Linked DNA regions of Homo sapiens. The protein of the gene in region 1 interacts with the protein of each later gene in a pairwise test. Each region holds a gene or a part of one and is shown in the gene's direction. Other genes may lie near its edges.

The links.
Region 2: the proteins of MB21D2 (region 1) and EVI5 interact in binary tests that used the Homo sapiens proteins (3 or more experiments, as listed by UniProt).
Region 3: the proteins of MB21D2 (region 1) and ARHGEF5 interact in binary tests that used the Homo sapiens proteins (3 or more experiments, as listed by UniProt).

What each region holds. Positions count from the first base shown.
Region 1 is NC_000003.12:192,907,526-192,915,560, reverse strand, and holds part of MB21D2 (nucleotidyltransferase MB21D2), read left to right. Parts: intron 1-8,035. UniProt on the Homo sapiens protein: Probable nucleotidyltransferase that catalyzes the formation of cyclic dinucleotide second messenger in response to some unknown stimulus.
Region 2 is NC_000001.11:92,508,851-92,516,885, reverse strand, and holds part of EVI5 (ecotropic viral integration site 5 protein homolog), read left to right. Parts: intron 1-1,841; coding exon of another isoform or gene 1,842-1,940; intron 1,941-2,915; coding exon 2,916-3,230; 3' UTR 3,231-8,035. UniProt on the Homo sapiens protein: Functions as a regulator of cell cycle progression by stabilizing the FBXO5 protein and promoting cyclin-A accumulation during interphase. May play a role in cytokinesis.
Region 3 is NC_000007.14:144,350,298-144,358,923, forward strand, and holds the start of ARHGEF5 (rho guanine nucleotide exchange factor 5), read left to right. Parts: upstream 1-5,104; 5' UTR 5,105-5,204; exon of another isoform or gene 5,205-5,421; intron 5,422-8,626. UniProt on the Homo sapiens protein: Guanine nucleotide exchange factor which activates Rho GTPases. Strongly activates RHOA. Also strongly activates RHOB, weakly activates RHOC and RHOG and shows no effect on RHOD, RHOV, RHOQ or RAC1.

The sequences.
Region 1 (8,035 bases):
ACCTGCAGGAGAGAAGATTCAAGAGAGTGTCATTTAAGCCTTTTGCCCCTCTGGACACTAGAAGGCAGATGGCGAAATGAGCTTGCTTGCCTGTGTGTGGTGCTGCATTCATTTGCGAGTTCCTTGCTTTCCTTTAATGAGATGCTGGCTGCTCTACACAAGTGGAGGTTTGGCGACAGCAAGGGTTCCTATGTGGATTTACTTTTTCTAAAGCAGATTTTGGCTTGGCTTAAAGAACAAAATCATTTTTTTTATACACTTTGTTTCACTTGCCATAGCTTTGGTTCTTTGATGACTATGCAAATGAAGTCTCTTAATGACCCCTAGCTTGTTAAGGTGTTACTTGGGTGGTACCAGGCCCTCATTTCAGGGCGGGGGGGTGGAGGGTGGCCAGTCCTCTTGGCTTTGTTCTGTATCTGAGCTGCACCTGGGGATTGTTAGCAGCTTACAGATATTATCCCCTCACACAGAATGAAGTGGCCAACCACGAATTGGGTGCAAGCCTCTTTAGTGGAGCTGAGAAAAATACTGCCTCATGTTTCAGGCAGTTGGCAGGGGTGAGGCATGTTACTCTCTTTTTGTGTAAGATTGTTAGCCAAGTCTGAAGCCCCTCCAGCTTCACAGATCCTTTTCATTTTGTCTAGTTTGGAGGAATTTTACACTGAAGAGCAAGGAGGTGGTAGACAGCTGTCATAATCAATGACCTGTCAACACCAAGACACTCCACTGTCTTATCAAAGTAGGGTTCTGCACAGGCTGTGGGGTTGATCTGAGCTTGCTGGTGGTCACTGTGGTCTCTGGGGTCTGTCCTGATGCTCTCTGTTTGTACAGAGATTCTGATTTTTTTTTGGAGGCAGGTGTTAGCTGCAATTGTCTAGATTCACTTCTTATTCCTCTGTACCTTGGTCTTTTAGGAGAATGATTGGTGTTATTATCTAGTTAATATTTGAGAGCCCAGACTGTGCGAAAGGCTGGCAGTGCATAATAAACACCATTTATCAAAATTCAGGGAAATTGCCAGAGTTCATTAATGTTTTAATAATATTTGGTATTAGCATAATGTCTCTGCCAGCTCTTTTGTTATCTTCATTCCCTGGTGAGGTTCGATAGAGACTGGTTTGTGTCCCCATTGAACAGATGCAGAAAAGGGGGTATGCAGATGCTGGAGAAGGCAGGAAAGAAACAAGCCGTCACCTAACCTACAGACCAAGTGGTCGGTACCATGGCATGATTTTTACGGTAGTTAATCATTTACTAATCATCTTCTCAGGGCCAGGAACTTCACATAGACTTTTGAGGAGGTATTGCTTTCCCATTACATAGATGAAGATATTGAAATTTAGTGGGGTGAAGAAAGTGGATATCCAGGGTCACAAAGCTAATAGATGGTAGAGATGCTACTGAAACTCAGGTCAGCCTTACTCTAAAACATGTTCCTCTTCTCCTACTTGAGACTATTAAGAATAGATGCATAAAATCCAGAGGAAAGGCTTTGTTTTAAAAAATCACTTCTTTCAGGATTTTGTTTCGATTTTAGCTATAAGTTTTAGCGTAATATAAGTAGATTTCTGGAACAGTCTGAGTTCAAGTATTCTATAATAAGATCTCCTATTTGAATTTTTGATTGAGAAAATCATAGTAATTATAATAAAATGTTAAAATCTATAGTTTCATTCCCAGTCTGCCTCTTGTTGGCTTTGTGGTCTTAGTATTTTCTCTCTCTTTTTTTGAGACAGGATCTTGCTCCGTTGCCCAGCCTGGAGTGCAATAGTATGATCATGGCTCACCGCAGCCTCAAAGTCCTAGGCGTAAGCTATCTTCCTGTCTCAGCCTCCCTAGTGGCTAGGACTAGAGATGTGTACCACCGTGCCCAGCTAATTTTTTATTTTTTAAAATTTTTGTGTAGATGGAGTCTCACTATGTTGCCCAGGCTGGTCTCAAAATCCTGGCCTCAAGTGATCCTTCTGGCTTGGCCTCCCAAAGTGCTGGTATTACAGGCATGAGCCACCATGCCTGGCCAGTTTTTTCATTTATTAAACATGGATAACAGTAAGCATTGTTTTTCAGAACTGTTATGTCAGAATGTGAAATTACTTTGCTAACTAAAAAAGAATATATACGTGAGTTTATTATTTAAATAAATGTTTGTTTATTTATTTATTTGAGACAGGGTCTCGCTCTGTCACCTAGGCTAGAGTGCAGTGGTACAGTCTCAGCTCACTGCAACCTCTACTTCCTGGGCTCCAAGTGATCCTCCCACCCCAGCCTCCCAAGTAGCTAGGAGTGCAGGCGTGTAACACCACGCCTGGCTAGTTTTTTGTATTTTTGGTAGAGACAGGGTTTCGCCATGTTGCCCAGGCTGGTCTCACACCCCTGAGTTCAAGCAATCCTCCTGCTTTGACCTCCCAGAGTGCTGGGATAAAAATATACTTTCTTAGAAGATCCAGTGAACTTAAATTGGAATTATTTCTGCAGCTTGACATCTGAAAGAACTATGCAGTACAATTAGGGTAGCCCAGGAGGATTTTGGCTCATACCATGTGCTGACCATTGTGCTAGCTACTTTGCCTAAGTCCATTAGCTCATGTAATCTTTTTTCCACAACTTTGTAAGCATAAGTATCATGCCTATTTTGGAAGTGAAATAGGTGTTGTTACCCTTTTTAAAGATGAAATGGTGAGGCTCAAAGAAAGAAGTCAAGAACTTAGGCCAAGATCATTCAGAGTTGGAGACTGAATCCAGTTATTCCTGACTCAGAAGCTCATGTTCCTTTTACTGTAGTAGCAATCAGTTTCCATCACTTTTGGGTGAGACATACTATACTCAGTAGCCTGCCTAGTCTGTAGGAGCAAAGATAATTTCTTTTTTTCTTTTTTCTTTTTTTTTTGAGATACAGTTTTGCCCTTGTTGCCCAGGCTGGAGTGCAGTGGCATGATCTTGGCTCACTGCAACCTCTGCCTCCTGGGTTCAAGTGATTCTCCTGCCTCAGCCTCCCGAGTAGCTGGGATTACAGGCGCCCGCTACCACACCTGGCCAATTTTTGTATTTTTAGTAGAGATGGGGTTTCACCATGTTGTTGGCCAAGGCTGGTCTAGAACTCCTGACCTCAGGTGATCCACCCACCTCGGCCTCCCAAAGTGCTGGGATTACAGGCGTAAGCCACCATGCCCCGCCTGAGATAATTTCTTTTTGTCTTCCTGTCTCTGTCCCTCTTTCTCTCCCTCTGTTTTTTTCACGCATTTGACAAATACTTAATGAATGTAATAGTGTTTGCCAATCAGCGTGCAGGGTTCTGAAGATAAAATGGTGAACAAAAACTTTGAGAAATTCATAAGGGCCTTCAGGGACCCCTCCCCTGTTTCCTTTGCCCACCAACTCTAGCAGGATATTTTGCTGGCTGTTTCTCCTTTCAGGCCAATAAGTGCCATGTGGCCATTTCAAAGATGTAAATGCTTGGTGTGGTGCTCCTGGACCTACCATATTTTTAGGCACTTTCTACATCTCCAGAGTGGGTAATTTTGAAGCCCTACCTTTCCAGTGTTTGATTGCTACTTTTCTGTTAATGAATTCCCCCAGCAGGATTTACCATGGAAATTTATGGTGCGTTGGTGTTTTATGGGCCTCCATGTGCTTGGAAAGTTCCCGAGAGTTGTATTCACTATGTGCTGCATCTGTAGAGTGCACAGGATCATCTCGGAAGTTTGTTCTATCTCTGAGAACATTATGTATCCAGGGCAGGGGATCTCTCCAAACATTCATTTTTGTGCTAGTTTGGATTGGTTTCAATTCCCCCTCCATGGTTCTGGGCAGTGGCTGCCCTTCGTCCTTGAGAGAAGAGGCCTAGAACTGTCGACAGTCCTGGGTCTTCCTGTCATTCCTTGTCATGCCACTCATTGGATAATACATTGCTCACAGTTAGGCTGAGCCCCTTTTTAATTCACAGAAATATTAGATTCTAACAATTCAAAATCTCTGGTCCCATTCAGACCTATTGAATCCGAATTCCCTAGAGATCCCCCAACAAGCTGCTCAGCATGTCAACATCCTGTCCTGTGTTAGGCTTGATGTTCTGCATTCTCTGTTCTAGGCACAGTGAGCATGATCCCAGTTGACTTTTGAGACTAGAACCAAGCTGCTGAGCCTAATGAGCAGATAATGTCTGTCTGCTCCTGGAAAGTAATAGTGGAGTTCTTCCACCTGGGACAGAGACAAAAAGGCATAGTGAGTGAGACAAGGGTGTTTACTATGTCACAGGTTTTAATAGGACTTTACTGTATCATTTAATCATCACCATTACACTTTGAGGTTAAAAAAAAAAAACTGTGGTGAACCCTAGAATTAGAAAAATATAGGAATTCATCCAAGTTTACCAGCAAGTGAGTGGCATAGGTGGGACTTAACCTGGGTCAGGATGAATACAAAACCCTGGCTTTTAACAAGGACAATATTCTGCACTCAGGACCAAGAGACCCAGATTTTACCTCTGAATCTCCAGTTATTAACATTTGCTGTGTGACGTTGGGCAAGTCACTCAGACTTTAAGCCTCAGTTTCTAAATATATAAGTTGGGCTTAATCATTATATGTACTTCATGTGTTCAGGTGCATTCAATTCTGAATCTGAAAGTTTTTATATAGTAAGAGAAAAGGGAATTTCTGAGTTCTTGTACCAGCTCTGTTTTGTACTATGTGGTATGTGTTTTACCCTAAGTCTCCTAACCTATGTTGGGCCTAATTCTGCCCGTTTTCCAATGATAGAAAATGCAAAGGAAAAAGTAAAATCACTCCTAAACTTGAATCACCATTAATATTTTGATGCACATTTCTTCTAAACATCTGTGTTATACATATGCTTATACCCAGACATATGTGTACATTTACATAACAGGGATGGTATGGGATCCATGCTCTTTTATTAGGAGTAAATTTATCAATATGCTGTCCTCTACATTTTAAAGAGGAGCTATAAGTTGAAACTTGTAGAATGATGTTTTCCTAGCTTCTTTCATTCATCTCTTTTTATTCCAAAGAAGATGCATTTCTAGAACTTAGAGCACATTCTGTTATTTATGTATATATGTATGAATGACAGGTCTCACTCTGTTGCCCAGGCTGGAGTGCAATGATGCCATCACGGCTCACTGTAGCCTTGACCTCTTGGGCTCAAGCGATCCTCCTACCTCAGCATCCCAAGTACCTGGGACCACAGGAGAGCACAGCCATGCCTAGTTAATTTTTAAATTTTTTTTTTTTTTTTTTTTTTGTAGAGATGGTGGTCTTGTTGCCCAGGCTGGTCTTGAACTCTTGGGCTCAAGTGATTCTCCCACCTTGGCCTCCCAAAGTGTTGGGATTACAGGCATGAGCTACCACGCCCCACCTCTATTCTATTATTTAATAATTGGGAGTAATGAATTCTCACATTGGTGACCTCCGAGGATTTTACCTACCTTATTTGCCATCTTCTGAGGATTTTACCTACCTTTCCATGCCGCCTCCTGTCTCTGCATGTTCTACATTGTCATGTAACATACACCCCAATTTCTCACTTTCTTTCTTTGCTTAGGCTCTTAGGCTCTTTTCTCTCTCTCTCTCTCTTTCTTTTTTTTTTTTTTTTTTTTTTTTTTTGAGACAGAGTCTTGCTCTGTCACTCAGGCTGGAGAGCAGTGGCCGATCTCAATCTTGGCTCACTGCAACCTCCGCTTCCCGGGTTCCAGTGATTCTCCTGCCTCAGCCTCTGGAGTAGCTGGGATTACAGGTGCGTGCCACCATGCCTAGCTAATTTTTTGTATTTTTAGTAGAGATGGGGTTTCGCCATGTTGGCCAGGCTGGTCTTGAACTCCTGACCTCGAGTGATGCACCCACCTCGGCCTTCCAAAGTGCTGGGATTACAGGCGTGAGCCACCGTGTCTGGCCGAGGCTCTTCATCAGAGTTCCCTAACCTGGGTCCATGGAAACAGCATGGAACCTGTGAACTTGAGTGGGGAAAAAAGGACATCTTTATTTGTATTAACCTCTAACTTAAATATAGCATTTTCTTTCATTATAAATATAGATGGGAAACCATAGTGTTATTAGTGGTTCGTATGTTTTTGTTGCCAATAGAAATCCCAGGCATTTTTATTTCACATTACAGTTGTTGCAGATATCTCAAAAAATGTTTACTGCTGCTTTGAAATTATGGTGGATATTAGACTTGCTGCTAGATTTTATTATTTAAGGCACTAATAATCACATAGGGTACTCTATCACAAATTTACTTTAAAAAGGCATTTATTATTATTTTTTTATTTTTTATTTTTTTTTTTTGAGACAGAGTCTCGCTCTGTCACCCAGGCTGGAGTGCAGTGGTGCGATCTCGGCTCACTGCAAGCTCCGCCTCCCGGGTTCACACCATTCTCCTGCCTCAGCCTCCCGAGTAGCTGGGACTACAGGCGCCCGCCACCATGCTTGGCTAATTTTTTTGTATTTTTAGTAGAGACTGGGTTTCACTGTGTTGGCCAGGATGGTCTCGATCTCCCGACCTCGTGATCTGCCTGCCTTGGCCTCCCAAAGTGCTGGGATTACAGGCGTGAGCCACCGTGCCCGGCCGCATTTTGTATTTTAATACTGATTTTCTTGGAAATCCTGTGTGATGTTATCATATTCACTTAAATATGCTATTCTCTGCAGGGATCTATAGGCTTCTACAGTCTGTCGAGAGGATCCATGTCACAGAAACAATTAAATGTCCCAGGTTCTACAGATGACCTTCTGACACCTTATGTCCGCTTTATTTTTTTCTCCCAGCTCAAATGCCACTTGACTCATGAAGCCTTCCTATATGTCTTTGAGAAGAAGAAAATTTGGCCCGGCGTGGTGGCTCATGCCTGTAATCCCAGCACTTTGGGAGGCCGAGGAGGGCGGATCACGAGGTCAGGAGATCGAGACCATCCTGGCCAACACGGTGAAACCTCGTCTCTACTAAAAAAAAAATACGAAACATTAGCTGGGCGTGGTGGTGGGCGTCTGTCATCCCAGCTGCTGTAGTCTCAGCTACTTGGGAGGCTGAGGCAGGAGAATGGCGTGAACCCAGGAGGCGGAGCTTGCAGTGAGCCTAGATCGCGTCACTGTACTCCAGCCTGGGCGACAGAGGGAGACTCTGTCTCAAAAAAAAAAAAAAAAAGAAGAAAATTTACCTTTCCTGTGTTTCCTCCTAATACCTGGTCCCTTTTGTGGCCCTTAGCCTGTTCTTTCCCATGCTTTAAAGAATACCTGGCTTATTTATCTTTGCAGCACCCAGGGGGTCATGCACATAGTAGGTGCTCACTAAGTGTGATGTGACTTGAGTCACTCTTTAAAAGAGCTCTTCCCAGTGAAGCTTTTTATTGCAGTCTCTGAGAAATTAGCACTTTCTAACCTTGTCTCTTTATGATTTTTAAAAATCCATTGAGTTATACTTTATCATTTTCTGGAGTCCAGAAAATTTTGATCTTATCTCCTTATGTGGCAGAGGGATGTAGGGCAAGTTTTTCTACATTCCTTAAGACCTATCCTAGGGCAATATAAGAAATGTCCATAGTGATTGCTGTAGCTTGTTGACTGGGAACAGCAAACTGCAACTCATGACTCATAGGGATGTTCCCTTCCTTGTGGACCCCGGTGTTTCTTCACAGGCATGTGAGGGTACTTCCGGACCTCTGGCATGCCCATACTCAGGGCTTTTCAGAATGCACAGTGGGCACACGTTATCTTTCTCATTATGGCGTTTAGTGTGCTTATCAGTCATCCTCCAAGTGCCTCCACTTGGATGGTTAATCTGGAACGCAAGTCGTAGGAATTCTTTATTATTAGAAACTACTGTTATTTGCGATCAATACTAATTTATCTTTGCACAATGCTTTATAGATGACAATAAATATTCACATTTGGTATGGTATTATCCTTAGGTCAGGCCTTTGAGAAAGGTTGTATAGGAAGTATTAATCCCCATTTCTAGATGGGAGTACTGAGACTCTGGGAGGTGATGTGACTGATTCGTAGGTCACAGAATCGGTTGG
Region 2 (8,035 bases), on another chromosome or scaffold:
TGGAGGAAAGGGAGAGTTGGAAAGGTTGATTGTCTGCCTGCTTTTTGTTGTTGCTTAAATATAGTTTGCCCCTGAAAGTCTGGTAATAAGGATAAGCAGTATATCATTTAGATCAGATAGCCAGGACTGCACTTTAGAGGGCCCAGCTGTGGCTTTCTTCTAGCCAAACCCCTTTCCACAGGATGAGGACTCCCAGAAGACATGTCTACCTGAAGTTCATGCAGCCCCTTCTAGAACATATTCTGGGTAGTCAGTACCCTGGAATTCCTTCCCCAAATGCCCACTTCCAGACCTAGTACAGGACTCCTCCCTCATCAGATCCAGTGTGCACACACCTAAGTCTAAGGGACAGATAACCAAGGGATAGCTTCAGTTTTACCACATAGTCGCTTACCTTCACCATTTTTTCTCTCCACCAATAAATTCCTTTACGTTTGCTATTCCATATTAACAGCTCTCAATGAGATTCCTTTGATGTTGAGGAAATGACCCTTCAACCTATAGTTAATTTTCTATAATTACATCTGATGATGAGGCTGCAGTGTTTTAATTGCAATAAATTTTGTTAGAGCAAAGGAAAGCTGCAGCTTTCCAAACAGTTGGGAAGTTGTGGTTCTTCTGCCATACTCCTCCTTTATAACAGCCAGGAAGAAGGAAGACACATGTTCCATATGATTTCTTCAAAAAGGTCTGGGGGAAAAAGAGAAAGGAAGAGATTAACTGACTTAATTTAACACTTGGAGCTATAAATTGTGTGTTGCAATATTGCGATAGGATGTTGCATCAGAACGTGGCAGTTGTAACAATGCAGTGGGTATCATAACCTTGAGGAGGCCTTTGTGGTGCTATATGCCCTTTTCCTAAAGATTCAACTCCAAGTATAGATCCCTCTGTTCTGCCAAGGAGAATGGTATTATTTAAATTACGTTGTACCTCACTATAAATTTGTCCACTTGGTCTAGGGCACAGGAATATAGTTGAAGGTCTGCTTGGGCCAGACATCATTGTTCTGAGTCCCTGCATCCCTGCTGATTCTTGTTGTCATATACAAGCAGGGAAGTGCTGAGGTTTCTTCACTTCTTCCTGGAAGTCTTTCAGGAAAGCTGGGAGGTATTATGGTGAGGCTGTAATGTCTTTATTCTCAGGACCGTTAGTTTTGAAAGTGTATGTAATATTTCCTGAATATTTCACATTGCCTTTATCTAAAGAATTGAAAGATTGTGACTAGGAGTTTGTCCCTGAGAAACAAGGATGAGGGTAGGAGACGTGGAGCATATTTTAGCAAGATTCTTAATAGTCAGAGTAGATATTTGGTAGCTAATTCTTGTTTTTGGTTTTGGTTTTTTACTCTTCCACTTTATTGTAGGAGAAAATTCATGGTGCATGAGAGAAATGAAATAAGTGACAGAATGTCAAAATCAAACTTTAAAACATAAACTCTTGAGGGCAGAGCTGATGACTTAATTGTATGTGAGTAGAACTGGTACTGTCATGGTTGTGGATTTGGGAGTTTGAGGAAACTTGAGCAAAGAAGTGGCAGATGATGAAAATAAATCAGTTTTAATTCTGATAAAACTGGTTTTGGAAAATGTGGTTTAGATTTAAATGTGGCACAATTTTTTCAATACTAAACTCTAGAATTAGTCAGACTTGCCCACCCAGTAACAGGTAGCTTTTGACCTCCTTAAGCCTCCTTATGTGAGGGTCTTGTACTATAAAACTCCAGGGATTGAGGACTAGAGCCTCATTCTAAAAGATGGGAAGAAAGGGAAAAGAGATGAGTGAGGCATACCATTCCTCTCTCCTCCTCCCCACTAAGAGAAGCCTCACCTTCTCCCCAGGGGGAGTTGGGGAGAGAAGGCAGAAATGTTATACCGGACTGGCACTCCCCCCATGCAGAAGGAAACCTCATGAGTGGGAAGCAGCATTCCTCTCCCACAGTAAGTGACGGTGATATGCTGGCCTTTGGGCTATTATAACAGGATGGAGACTCTTAGCAAAGTTTTAATGATTTATAAATCATTTTCATCATTTACAGAACTATGGAGACATTCTCTCAAGATAGTGTGTGTGATAGTATGGTTTTTAAGTTCATACCTTCTAGAAATACCAGCAAAATATTTACAGATAAACTGATAGGATGTCTGGGGTTTACCTCAAAATTATCCAGGAACAAGAGGTGTGTAATGTAAAAAGATTGTCCATGATGGGTGTTACTTGTTGAAATTAGGTGATGGGTACATGGAGTCCATTATATTATCTCTAGTATAATGAAGATTTAGTTTGAATCTAAACTTTGCTACTAGCTATATATGTCCTTAGCAAGTTACTCTTCCTGAGTCTCCATTTCCTAATCTGTAGAATGAGAAAAGTAAATACTAAAATCTATCACATAGGACGGTTGTTATTATTCAATTAAAGTAAGTTACAGGCCAGGTGTGGTGGCTCACACCTGTAATCCCAACACTTTGGGAGACTGAGGCAGGCAGATTGCTTGAGCCCAGGAGTTTGAGACCAGCCTGGGCAACATGGTGAAACCCCGTGTCTACAAAAAATACAAAAAAATTAGCCAGGCATGGTGACACACGCCTGTAGTCCCAGCTACTCAGGAGGCTGAGGTGGGAGAATCGCTTAAGCCTGGGAGGCGGAGGTTGCAGTGAGCCGAGATCGCACCACTGCACTCCAGCCTGGGTGACAAAGTGAGACTGAGACCTGTCTCAAAAAAAATAAAATAAAAATAATTATGAGCCCATTATATATAACACATAGAAGGCACTCAAAAATTAGTAACTATGATTATACCTGTAAATAGAAAAATAATAAGGCATCTTCTTCCTTAAACATGGAATGTTTGCTTTTTGGCGTGTGTGTGTTTCCCCCATTTGACTGTATTAACTTGGATTTTGTTTTAACAGCTCAGGTGCCTAAAAGGCCAGAGGGGCTTCTCAGGCCAACCTCCTTTTGATGGAATCCACATTGTCAACCATTTAATAGGAGATGATGAATCATTCCATTCCTCCGATGAAGATTTTATAGATAATTCCTTACAGGAAACTGGTGTTGGTTTTCCTTTGCACGGAAAATCTGGTTCGATGTCTTTGGACCCCGCAGTGGCAGATGGTAGTGAGAGCGAAACAGAAGACAGTGTGCTGGAGACCAGAGAGAGCAACCAAGTGGTTCAAAAGGAGCGGCCCCCGAGAAGAAGAGAGTCGTATTCAACCACTGTCTGACCATCACTGTGACCTAGACTATGGATTTATTTAAGGGATCAGTTATCATATGATTAGGGCTTTTTGGAAATAATTTGTTTCATATGTACATATATATATATATATATATATATATATATATATATATATATATATATATATATATTTTACAGTCTTATCTGCCTTTTTATCTTTGCCAAATCTTTACCACTGATTTACCATTGCCATAAAGTAGACTGGTATATGGTTAATGTGTAAAACAAGGTTCTAACAGTATTACTGAATATTAATGTTTCTTGTTTAGAAAATGCAACTATATCTATATGTGGGAACCATTCTGAAGTTCAAAACTATGGAAAATTGAATTTTCTTCAGACAAAACTGCTCTTGTGCAATATTTTATGCTCAGTGAGCAAATTGTGTATTTATGTTTATCAATTTGTTCTCAAGGTGGCTGTCTACAGACATTTGACCAAGACATACATCTGATTTACCTTGTGTTTTTTTTTTTATTGTTGTTTTTTTTTTTAAGACAGAGATTCAGTCTGTCACCCAGGCTGGAGTGCTGTGGTGTGATCTTAGCTCACTGCAACCTCCGCCTCCCAGGTTCAAGCAATTTTCCTGCCTCAGCCTCCCGAGTACCTGGGACTATATGTGCGCACCACCACGCCTGGCTAATTTTTTGTATTTTTAGTAGAGATGGGGTTTCACCATGTTGGCTGGGCTGGTCTCGAACTCCTAACCTCAAGTGATCCACCCGCCTCAGCCTCCCAAAGTGCTGGGATTACAGGTGTGAGCCACTGCACCCAGCCTACCTTGTCTGTTTGTGTCTGGGAGGTTTTTTTTTTCTATTTTTATTTTTTCATGAAAATTATTGGTGGGCCACTGAAAGTCCCCACACACAAAGCCTTTATTCTATATAATTTTATAAACACAAATTCATGATTATCTGTTTTGAGAGTTTTAAGTTTTGTTTTAATGTTTAACTTTTATGTGCATATGATGCTTCCATGTGTTGGTTACTAGAGTAGTAGGTTAACTACAGACATACTGTTTTGTTTGTACATATTTATAAATCTGTACCACCTAACATTGAACATCATTTTATATGAAGAACATACATGTTGCAAAATGACTGCTTTCAGCATCTAACAGGACTTCTGTAAATAATAGGTTAAAAGTTAAAAATAAAACACTAATGTTTTAAGAGCTTTAGTATTTTGCTTAGCATTCAATACTAGCAGATTCATAACTGATGCCTGTTCAAAAACACTGTTGGTGGAATCTTTTATTTCATGTGTATGTAACTACTAAATTTTTCATGACTGAAGAGGTTATAGCACATATTAGTTAGTGCTAATATTCTACTGAATATAATTTAAGCAATGGGCTAAGGTCCAAGAAACATAGCAATTATATCTACAAATAATCTATTAACATGATCTTCAGAATCTCTAGTTTTTGTTCTATAGATAAAGCCATAAGAATCCTTTCCTACCAGTTTTTCCTATATCATTTAGATATTATTTCCTAGAAAACAGGATGCCTGTCACTGATAAGTTAGAGAAAACACCCAAATTATACTTGCACTATGGAAAGACGACATGAATATGTTGACTGGGTACTTTCTACTCTCATTTTTGTTAGCCTATGAAAAAAAAAACATTTTGTTAACCTATGGAAAAAGCCTTGGAAGAGAAAAGTAGAATTCAGTATGTATGGAGGCACAGTTTTGCACAGTATGTTGCATGCGGCAAAAAAAAAAATATGAAATAGAGTAGAAGAGATAAAAGTAGTTTTCTGTCAAAAACTAGGAGTTAAGCCTTCAGGTACGTTGTGGACTAGGCTTTCCAGCAAGGTTTTTGTAGCTATTTGCTTGCCTGAGAAATGAAATTGAAAACATACCCCTGCGTGTCTGTCCTTAACACCAGGCTAAATTCTGGTGGTTAAATAACTTATCTGTGGTTACAAGCTAGTAAGTAGCAGAGCCAAGATTTTTTTTAATATAGAGACAGGTGTCTCACTGTGTTGTCCAGGCTGGTCTTGAACTCCTGGCCTCAAGTGGTCCTCCTGCCTCAGCCTCCCAAAGTGTGGGGATTACAGGTGCGAGCTACTGCTCCCAGCAAGAGCCAAGATTTTAACCTAGATCTCCCTAACACCAAAGCTTTTGAAAGGGTTCAGCTGAAGAATTTCTCAATTCTCTGTTTTGTTTTGTTTTTATTTTTGTTTTTTGAGATGAAGTCTCACTGCACTCAGGCTGGAGTGCAGTGGTACGATCTTGGCTCACTGCAACCTCCACCTCCCGGGTTCAAGCGATTCTCCTGCCTCAGCTCCCAAGTAGCTGGGACTACAGGTGCACGCCACCACAACTGGCTAATTTTTGTATTTTTAGTAGAGATGGGGTTTCGCTATGTTGGCCAGGCTGATCTCAAACTTCTGACCTCAGGTGATCCACCCACTTTGACCTCCCAAAGTGCTGGGATTACTAGACGTAAGCCACCACACCTGGCAATTCCCTGCTTTTTTGACAACATAATTTAAATGAATTTGATTTAAATGTTTCCTGAATATATATACAGATAGATAGATGAGTATCAACACTTACAAGCTCTACACAGTCTGTGAGTGTAGATACTACTTACTCGTAGGATTGTCTTGTGCTTTGGGGATTTTTGTTCGGAGTTCTATACTATCAGCCCAGAAAGCTATCAATGTCCAAGTGAAGTGAGATGATGCATGGCCACATTATTGCTTTGACCCTCACATCAAGAAATCTGAATGATCTGGACCAGGGGTCAGCAAAGTGCAGCCTACAAGCTATTGCAGTCAGCTGCCAGTTTTTACTTTTTTAAATAGTTGGGAAAAAAATTCCAAAGACTGATATTTTGTGTCACATGAAAATTATATGAAATTCAAATTGCAGTGTCCATAAGTAAAGTTTTATTGGGGCACACCCATGCTCACCCTTTTAAATATTGTGTATGGCCGCTTTGTGCTACAGTAGCAGAGTTGAGTCATTGCAAGGGAGACCATATGGCCCAGGTAGCCTAAAATATTTATCTGATCCTTTACAGAAAAAGTTTGCTAACCCTTGATAACAGATACTCTAAAATGCAGGTTTTTCTTCTTCAATTTAGCTCAGTGGTAGGTCAAATTGTTTGCTTTTGCTATTAAGCTTATGATTTGGAAACGTAAAATTTCATGGTGGATATTATAATCAGAACTATTCAAAAGGGAAAACATGCCAGCCATTTTATATGATGAAGTCTCTTATTCCATAGAAAACTGTAGAAAGATATCTGTATCTTTGGAGAAGGAGAAAGAAAGGAAAGAACTCCAGAATCCCATCACTGTTCTTTAAAGCATGCATCACAGACCTTTAAGAGTATGCTTTATTGAGTAAAGGTTATAGTTTGACTTTAAGATAAGAAATTTTCTAGAATCATGTTTGAATTCTAAACGTTGATATTCTTAAGTACCATTTCTGATTAGGAATTAGGTGTTAAAAGAATCATGGTAAGGAAACCTTAATCCGTTGAAACTCTTGTAATTTGGACAACAAAAAACTAGAAATAACACTCTTTTCTTTGAAGATCTGATTCAAATACACCTTAGAAGAGTTTAAAATCTCCCAGGCCTTTAGGATGCAATAGGATATTATGCCTTGGTTTGACTCCTTTTCATTCAAATTAATGTAAGTATGTTGTTCAAGACTTTGAAGCATTGAACAATGTTCTCGATGAATTTTATTTAATTACTGACATTTTGTGATATTTGAATGTTATTAAGTTAAACACTTAGAGTTGAGTATATTCAGGGGAGAAAAGTGAATGAAATGACTCATAATAAGAAAGCTTGCTCCCTTGGGACAGTTACCTTCCTGGTGTCATTGCCATCCTGGGTTGACAAGCTGAGAGTAGAGGATACAAGTGATGTGAATAAAATGGAAATTGCATTGAGTTAATGAAACAGACACTTTTAGATCAAGAAAACACTTCAACAGCCTTTTTAGAAATTGGCACACTCCTATAGTCCCACCTACTCAAGAGGCTGAGGCAGGAGGATCACTAGAGTACAGGAGTTTGGGGCTGTAGTGTGTAATGATCACACCTGTGAAAGAATAACCACTGCACTCCAACCTGGGCAACATGGCAAGACCCTGTCTCTTTAAAAAAAAAAAAAATCCTGGGAAAAGAAGTCAAAGATGTAATTTTACACAATTTCTGCCCCCACCGTCTTTTTTGTTTGTTTGTTTGTTTGTTTGTTTTTTGGCTAGATACTAGGTATTCAGTGTTTGCTGAGATGACAGGTTTCTACTAATCAGCCAGTTATTTGGGAAGGAGAAAAACTTTTTCTCAATTCTGAACATGATGCAGCTTGTTAACTCTCCAGATAGTGCCTTTGATTGAAAATAAGGTCTACACCTTTTTAAGTATATTATTTCTGACATCGTAAGAAATAATTTAGTTCCTTATTCTCATTTATCTTTTATATAATGTACTGTAATATTCAGGTTTAAAGTAAAATAAGTATATGAATTATATTTTGGTAAAACTGTTTCATGACCAGCTTGATTAATGTATATTAACATACCAGACATTGACAGCGAACATTTCATGAAATCAGTTATTTACTTACCAAAACAATGAGTTTTAGCTTGAAAGTTACTGCTGCTCTATTATTAACAAAACTAAGTTTTAAAAATTAATTTTAATTCTACTGAAGTTTAATTTCTGGTTAAAGGTATAGTGGATGCTATTTATGATCCAAGTTTTTACATCACATCCATTGATCTGCCTATCCCTTCTTTTTACTCCAAAGAGGAG
Region 3 (8,626 bases), on another chromosome or scaffold:
TCTCACCTTCGCCGGGCACGTTGGCTCACACCTGTAATCCCAGCACTTTGGGAGGCCAAGGTGAGTGAATTGCTTGAGTCAAGGAGTTCGAGACCAGCCTGGGTAACATGACAAAACTCTGTCTTTACAAAAATATACCAAAAATTAGCCAGGTGTGCATGGTGGTACACATCTCTAGTTCCAGCCCCAGGAGGCTGAGGTGGGAGGATCACCTAAACCCAGGAGTTTGAGGCTACAGTGAGCCATGATTGCGCCACTACACTCCAGCCTAGGTGACACAGTGAGACCCTATCTCAAAAAGAAAAAAATATATATAATCCACCTTATCCATTCAGGCTTCTCTGATTCCCCAAGGAGTGCCACCTACTCTCTCCTTTATGCTTCCATTGTACTTTGTGTCCATCTCAACATAACACTTACCATGCTCTGCTGCCATTATTTGCTACCTGTTTCTCTCCTCAATCAGATTGAGAGCTTCTTGAAAGCAGAGATCTTGTCTTTGTATATCTGGTTTCTAAGAATGCATACTGAGTAAATGAATAGAAGAAAAAATGAATGAGGCAATTAGTATGTATGCCTTGAATGGCATTAAATTTAGGCCTATGCCAATCAATGTGTAAAGGTTGAGAAAATAAATAAGGGGAAGCCAAGGATAGAAAATAAAACCATGCTCATCAGAATAGAAGAGGATAGGCTGGGCGCAGTGGCTCACGCCTGTAATCCCAATCACTTGGGGTCAATAGTTTGAGATGAGCCTGGCCAACATAGTGAAACCCCATCTCTACTAAAAACACAAAATTAGCCAGGCTTGGTGGTGCGCACCTGTAATCCCAGCTACTGGGGAGGCTGAGGCAAGAGAATCACTTGAACCTAGGAGGCAGAGGTTGCAGTGAGCCTAGATCGTGCCACTGCACTCCAGCCTGGGCTGGACAGAGCAAGACTCCATCTCTGAAAAATAAAATAAAATAAAATAAAACAAAAAAACAGAATAGAAGAAGATAGCTAAGAACCACAGTGGTCAAGCCAGCCTGGCTTCAACAGAGATGAATGGAGAGACCACGGTCAGCCCCATTAACAGAAGAACTGGGGCCAGGAACGGTGGCTCATGCCTATAATCCCAGCACTTTGGGAGGCCGAGGCAGGCAGATCATGAGGTCAGGAGTTCGAGACCAGCCTGACCAATATGGTGAAACCCCATCTCTACTAAACATACAAAAATTAGCCGGGTGTGGCAGCACATGCCTGTCATCCCAGCTACTCAGGAGGCTGAGGCAGGAGAAACGCTTGAACCCAGGAGGCAGAGGTAGCCATGAGCCGAGATCACGCCATTGCACTCCAGCCTGGCGACAGAGCGAGACTCCATCTCAAAAAAAAGAAGAACTGAGTTCAAAATCAGTTCGAAAGGTTCAATGTTGGGTCACAGGATCAGGCAAAAAGCAGAGGCAGAAAGGCCTTAGGAGTGTTCCAAGAACTAGCACTGGACCAGCTGAGAGTCAGAGAGAGTTCACCACGTGGGAACAATGCAGCCAGTCATGTGGGATGGTGGCACCATGACAGTATCTAGTCAGGACAATGACAGCCCTAGGGATAATGCTGATGAGTTCCTGCTTCAAAAAAGGTCATTGTCATTCCTTTAGTCCTGATACCTAGAACTATACAAGATTGTTCCCTGCCTCTCCCCAAGCCCCATAACTTGATCTTAAAGGCATTATTGTCAATTAAAGTAGTCCCAAGTTCTAGAAGCTATTTTTATTCAGCCTCGTCTAATAGGGCTTTCATTTTAAAATAGCTTTATTTTGAATCTATTTACTGTTCCCAGCCCCTATCACTTTGTTCTTATAAACATATTCATTCCACATGCATCACTGACAGGCACTGCTAGGAAAGGAAACTAACCCATCTTGGCCACCTTTACACATCAGGTACTTATACTAAGGTGATTTCTATATATTACAGTATTGAATCACCACAACAATCCAGTGACGTAGGTATCATTACATATTATTATCCCCAATTAAGACATTAGGGAAATGAAACGTAGGAAGATTCAGAGAAAGCACAGGAAGGTGAATATGCCCAAGATTTCACATTAAGTAAATGGAATGCAGGATTCAAATTTACCCCTGTCTGAATCTAAATCTCATTCTCTTTCCATGGCATCATTCTCTCTCCTCTCTAGGCCTTTATAGAGGAAATATAGGCCCAAATAAAATATCAAAATCTCAGGATGGGATGACAGGCTTGATTAAGAAACCCAGTCACCAAGACCACGCAGTAAGAAATGAAAAAGAAAAAAAATAATAAAATGCTGAGAACCATAGTCTGCAAAGTGAAAGGAAGAATACCTGGGAGAGCTAGAGTGACCTCCACATGCAAATACACCCTGCAGACAGGAACAGTCTTGATGGGAAGAGCAAACTCCCTAAATGGTCGGTTGTAACTTTCCTACTAGTTGAAAAGTCAGGAAAAGCCTTGTGTGCTAACTCTCTGGACAAGCGCACAAGAATCCAGGGTTGTGACTTCAAAAAAAAATATGCTGACAAGTCAGAGCTGGCAGAACAAGAGGAGGTCGAGTTGATGAGAAAAGAGAGAGAGAGAGAGAGAGAGAGAGAGAGAGCGCTGTAATCAAGGAGAACCAACTGAAGCTGGAGGGAAGCAGAAAGAATAGCCAGGCTGGTTCAGGAGGCAGTTCTGGTACCTCTGACCCCATTGCCCACCCCCAGTAGGCAGCATGAAATATGCCAGAGGTCAACAATTTTTTTTTTTTTTGTATTTTTTAGACAGAGTCTCACTCTGTCACCCAGGCTGGAGTGCAGTGGTGCAATCTCAGCTCACTGCAGCCTCTGCCTCCTGGGTTCAAGCAATTCTCCTGCCTCAGCCTCCCAAGTAGCTGGGAATACGTGCCCACCACCAAGCCCAGCTAATTTTTGTATTTTCAGTAGAGAAGGGGTTTCGCCATGTTTGGCCAGGCTGGCCTCAAATTCCTGAACTCAGGTGATCCACCGGCCAAGGCCTCCCAATGTGCTGGGATTACAGTTGTGAGTCACCGCACCCGACCCAGAGGTCAACAGCTTCTGCCCTAGATCAGAAGTTTACTCACTTTGCTCACTCGGTATAAATCAAGGACCCTCTCATACCTGGGAATGAGTTTTGTATTCCAGCCTAGAAGTAGAGCCAGTCCCAGTTTGAACTTTTTGCCTTTCTGTACTCCCAGTTCTTACCCTTTTGCTGAGCCTAGGACACATGCAAGGCCTGCCCTTCTTAATCCAGATTTTTGAGTCTTAATCCCAATTTTTCCTATAGTTTCCCATACACTCCATGGCAGCTTAGAGTAGGCTGAAAACTGCTGAACTGTTTAAGACTTAATCCTTCAGAGTAACATGGCAGAAGTAGCACACTTTTTTAACATAAAGCTGTTCAGGACTCTATTACAGAAGAGGCTATACTTCCTTAATTACATTCTATTCTACAGCCACCTCAAAATAACTAGTGAACACGTTCAACCAGGATCATTGGCAACAGCCAATGGGCACAGTGATCTGGAAATGGTCTAGCCAAGCTGTTTGGGCTGTAGACCATGGCATTCCTAAGAGCAAAATAGGCAAGGAGTCCATTAATATTTCACTTGACTTATGTCACCATGGAAACCCCTGGAGTAGTGAATGGCTTTGGGGAGTGGTCAGATTCAACCAAAAATAACAGAAATCTCTGTCCCCCAGGTAAAGGATTCCTACTTTGTGTGTGTCTGTGTGTGCACACAGGCACACTCGAGAGACTTTTGGCATTCTTTGAAGTCACTGGAGGGGCACAGAGATAAACCCACTCAGCCTTGGCCTCCAAGACTAACAGAACACAACGTTTCCCTGAAAGAATAAAAAAAAAAATACAGGCATAAGAAAACACACAAACATGGGCTTAGAGATTTAAATACACACACACACACACACACACACACACACACACAGGCCCTAGAAGGAACATACACCCTGAGATACGCACTCATTCTAAAATAAACTCGGGAATACAGAAGGACACGGGCATGTCCTTTCAGAGAGGCACACTTCTAGGCCCTAAGTAGGAGAAGGAAGAGGGGAGAGGAAGAGGCAGGGAGAGGGACAGGGAGGGGGGAGGAGGGAGGGAGAGAGAGAGAGAAACGAAGAAGGGGGCGGAGGAGGAGATGGAGGAGACACTCTTTATTCTATAGGAGGAGACATCACGGAAGAGAAATCAACACTGAGGCCTTGGCCGGGCGCGGTGGCTCACGCCTGTAATCCCAGCACTTTGGGAGGCCGAGGCGGGTGCATCACCTGAGGTCAGGAGTTTCCAGACCAGCCTGGCCAACATGGCGAAACCCGGCCTCTACTAAAAAATACAAAAATTAGCCGGGCATGGTGGCGCGGACCTGTAATCCCAGCTACTCGGGAGGCTGAGGCAGGAGAATCTCTTGAACCCGGAGACGGAGGTTGCAGTGAGCCGAGATCGCGCCATTGCACTCCAGCCTGGGCAACAGGGCGAGACTCCGTCTCAGAAACAACAACAACAACAACAACAACAACAACATCAACAACAACAACAACAACAACGAACAAACCAAAAACCAATGAGGCCTGAAGATAAAGACACATGTACAACCACGGATGTCAGACTTCCAGAGGCACGGCCAAGGCAAAAGACAAACACATACAGACTGCAGCAGGCAGACAGGCCGGTTCCAGAGTCAGGCTCCGGTGAAGCTCCGAAGAAACAAACACGCAGGGAGATTTCGGAGGCGTCCGAGGACACCGTGGGGCCCGGCTGGCTCCCTCTGTCTCTGTGCGCGCCCCTTCCCCGGGTCACCCCGCCTGCGCCCGACCTGCGCCCGCGCACCGCGCCCTCGGGGCTCCCTGGGACAGCCCGCGGCCTGGCCCGTGCGCCCGGGCTCCCCTCCCCGCCGGCCCGGCACTTCCCAGCTCTGACGCGGGAGCTTCTTTCACACCAATGGGGCTCGCGCGCGGAGGGGCCCTGCCCCTCCTCCGGGAAGGTGTGTCCCTGTTTCCTCACCTGAAACTTCCTAGGAGAACCCGATCCCTCCCTCCCGTCGGGCGGCCAGGGGCGGGCCGCGGGTGGGGCGGCCGGGCCTGCGCTGGGGACGGCTCTGGGGACTGCGGCCGGCGCCGGGACCTGGAGGGGACGCTGGGGCCGAAGCAGCATGTGACACCGACCAGGTGGGTGCCCTCCTCCCGTCTCGGCCCTGGGCTCCCGGCGGCTGTGGAGCCCGGCGGAGGTGGGGCAGGGACAGGAAGGAAGAGGAAGCCAGGCCTTTCCCAGGGATCAGCCCCCGCTGGGTCCGGGGCGCAGGCTCCGGAAATGGGGGGGCTGGGCCCGCAGGCAGGGCTCGGGGTGTGTGGCTGAGGACCCTGGTGGGGAAGAGGAGAGGAACTAGAGGAAATGTTGTTGCCTACAAGTTTGCTTCCGGTCGGGTCCCGCCTAGGAAATGGGCACCCTGCCCCCAGACGTTCCCCGGGCCAATAATCAGGGCTCTTTCTTCAAAGTAGGCGCCCTGGGGAAAGCTAAGCCATATCAGAAGGAATAACTGAGATTCCCTTTCTAGGCTGTTCCTTACCTGGAGAGGTTTTATCGGCTCCTTTTCCTTAACCAGGCCGGGGCCTTTCCTTATGTATCTCCATAGGTATTTGCATACTGTGTGAGTCTATGTGTAGCTTCTCTCCGTGTTAACCAAAGCTCCGTAACCTGGAACAGTGAATCCTGCCCTGCCCCTCACCCCAGTTCCCTACATATGGGGAGCCTCCTAAAGCTTGATGTGAATCACAACGTTGCATTCTTAGCAAGGTGGAAAGAAGTTATTTAGAGTTGGGGGCTGAGGTAGGCGTTGGGGTGCTAGAATGCGGACGCAGAGCTCTAGAACCCCTGAGCATCTTTTGCAGTTGCCTTCCGGCAAGACTACCGGAGGAGAGCCAGTTGTGATACTACGTCATTTCCAGATCTCAGTCCCTTTCTTCCCTTCCTGGATCTTGGGTTCCAAAGACAGATTTGCCCTCCTGTCTACCTAGAAGTGAACTCTGGCCAGGACTCTTGTCTGGTTGAGAGAGAAGGGTGTGTCAAACAGATGAGAGAGGGTGGTTTTCCTTTCGAGCTTCCTCCCTAGCTTGCTCCCCTACTGCACTCCACTGTCTGGCCTTGCATCTTGGGCCTAATCCAGAGGTCCCAGCTCCAGCTAAAAAGCTCTTGATGTGGCCTCTGTCTCAGACGTCTTGTTTTATCCACATTTGGAGCATGAAGAAGTTCCTGGCATAGGCCTTAGCAAAATGGGTGTCATTTGTTAACCAATCTGTGGGCCTAAAAGTGAAGCCATGGCTAGTGAAGGAGTCCTGGGGAGCTGGGAAGATGGGATGAGGGCGTGTCAGTTCTGGGTGAGACTGATATGCAGGAGGAATGTATGTCATGGTCCTAGTGGGGAGGAGAGAGAAATCAGGAGGAGTGCAAAGGAATCCCTCTCATCAACAGAATATAGTGATTCTCAATAGAGAGAAGAGTGTTCATATATTAGAGGTCCTGAGAGTGTATCAGTGCCCTTAACGCGGTCTGTCTGAGGTTCCGTGGCCACGTTACACGTGGTGTCTGTGGGATAGACAGGAATACGTCATTTGTGGTGTCTGGAGAGGTCAGTCGCTATGTGGTATGGACAGGAATGGAGTCACTCGTAGGGTCTTGGGTTCAACGGGAGCAGCATTACTCAAGTGTCAGTGGTGTAGACAAACAGGTGACCAACAGCTCTAGTGTAGACAGGGGCTGGGTCACTCACAGTGTCTGTGGAGTAAGCAGGAGCCGATCACTTATAGTGCCTGCAAGGTAGACTGGAACAAAGTCACCCTCAAGGTCTGTGTTAATACACAAACACGTCACTCACACTAATGTTATCTGTGTGTATGCCACCAGGACCACAGATGAGATTGTAGAGTGTAAGTCAGCATTGACACTAATAATGTTCTTATATAAACTATCTGGTCTATAAGGCAGTTGGTGTGACATTTTCAGACATTAGAGAATAGATAAATGTGTATTACAGCTTTCACTGGCATGGTGGGACTTTCCTGCAATGGATAGAACACACACTGTAGTAGTCAGTGGTCCAGAAAGCTACCCCTGTTTTGATATCTTTGTAGTATTGAGGGCAGTGATGTCAAACAGTGAATAAAGTTATATATCTATGTGGTGATCTTATTTTAACCTCAATATTATTTTAGTGATTTGTAAGTCAGAATATTTGAAATCAACCTTGCTAGAAAATCCAGGAAGCATGGTCCTCAAAAATATATATATGGCACTGAGTCTCAGTTCAAAGATTTGGCAGTTTGATTGGGGAGGGGTTGTATCCTTGAAATACAGTGTTGTTTCTAGTGACTAGAAATAGACAAGAGCTAAGGTGTTGGGGGGGGCTCTAGGGAAGATAGTGAGCTCTGTCACACATTATGTTAAAGGGATGACTTGAAGCTTTGCCTCTCAAGAAGTCACACGTGGGTGAGGTTATGTGGATGCAGAATGTCTGTGGTCTGAAGCAAGGCCGTATCCCCATAATCCCATGCCCTGGCTTTGCCTGTACACAGATAAACAGTGATTATTCACCCTCAGTGGAGAAGGAGATGAGGATGTTTGCACTCTAACGTAATGAGCATTGCAAAAAACTCTCTCCTGATGCCTTTACGTGAGTAAGACCATGATTTACAGATTTCCTTTCACTTTGTCACATTTTAGCTTTGTCATGCCTGATTGCAACGGGATCACTGAGATAGGATCAAGTATAGGGAACGTGGGGTATGTTCTCCCTTTGCGGTAACTGGTGGCTGAGCAGGTGACCACTGATATTTCCAAATGAAAAAAGACAGTTAGAAACGGTGTCAATGGGCTTGCAGAGGCAGGCATGCACTGTGCCACTAGATTGGAACAGAAAATGTCCAGGTAGCACATGGTATTTATAGATATACCCTAGATATGGCAGAAACACACTTTTATTTAGAGGCTACTTGTTTTGAAGACGTGATGGTGTATATGGAGGAGAGGGCCTGAACCATGCAGATGTAAGTGAGGAGAGACTACAGGTTTAGTCCCATGGTCTCCTTAGGCCAAGTTTCAGAAAGTGTCTTAAAGTAAGCAAGTATATTATTCGATGTGTGGTTGAGAGAACAGGGCCACATCACAGAATCACCCATAGGGATTATAGTATTTTGTACTTAAGGGCTAGACATAGGGAGCCAATCGCATATGGTGTCAGTTAACTGGAAAAGGACATAAAAGTCCTTCTGCCTGTGTACAATTATGTCAGACATATCTCTTTGCCCCATATAGATGGTATCTCTGTCTCTGGGATGGCCAGAATCTTGTCACATACTACTCTGCAGTGTGCTAGGGACCTGCCTGTTTGGTTATGTCAGGCTCTATTGCAAGAGTTTGTAAGGATGGCTCAGTGTGTGTGTGTGTGTGTGTGTGTGTGTGTGTGTGTGTGTGTGTACACACACAGTGGCTAAGCAGGACAGTATTCTGAGCAGGTGAGTTTTCAGTTTAAGCCTGGACCAGACAAGAAAGGTGCACGGTCAGGTGCAGCATTGGGTCCATAGAATTCTGGGGTCTT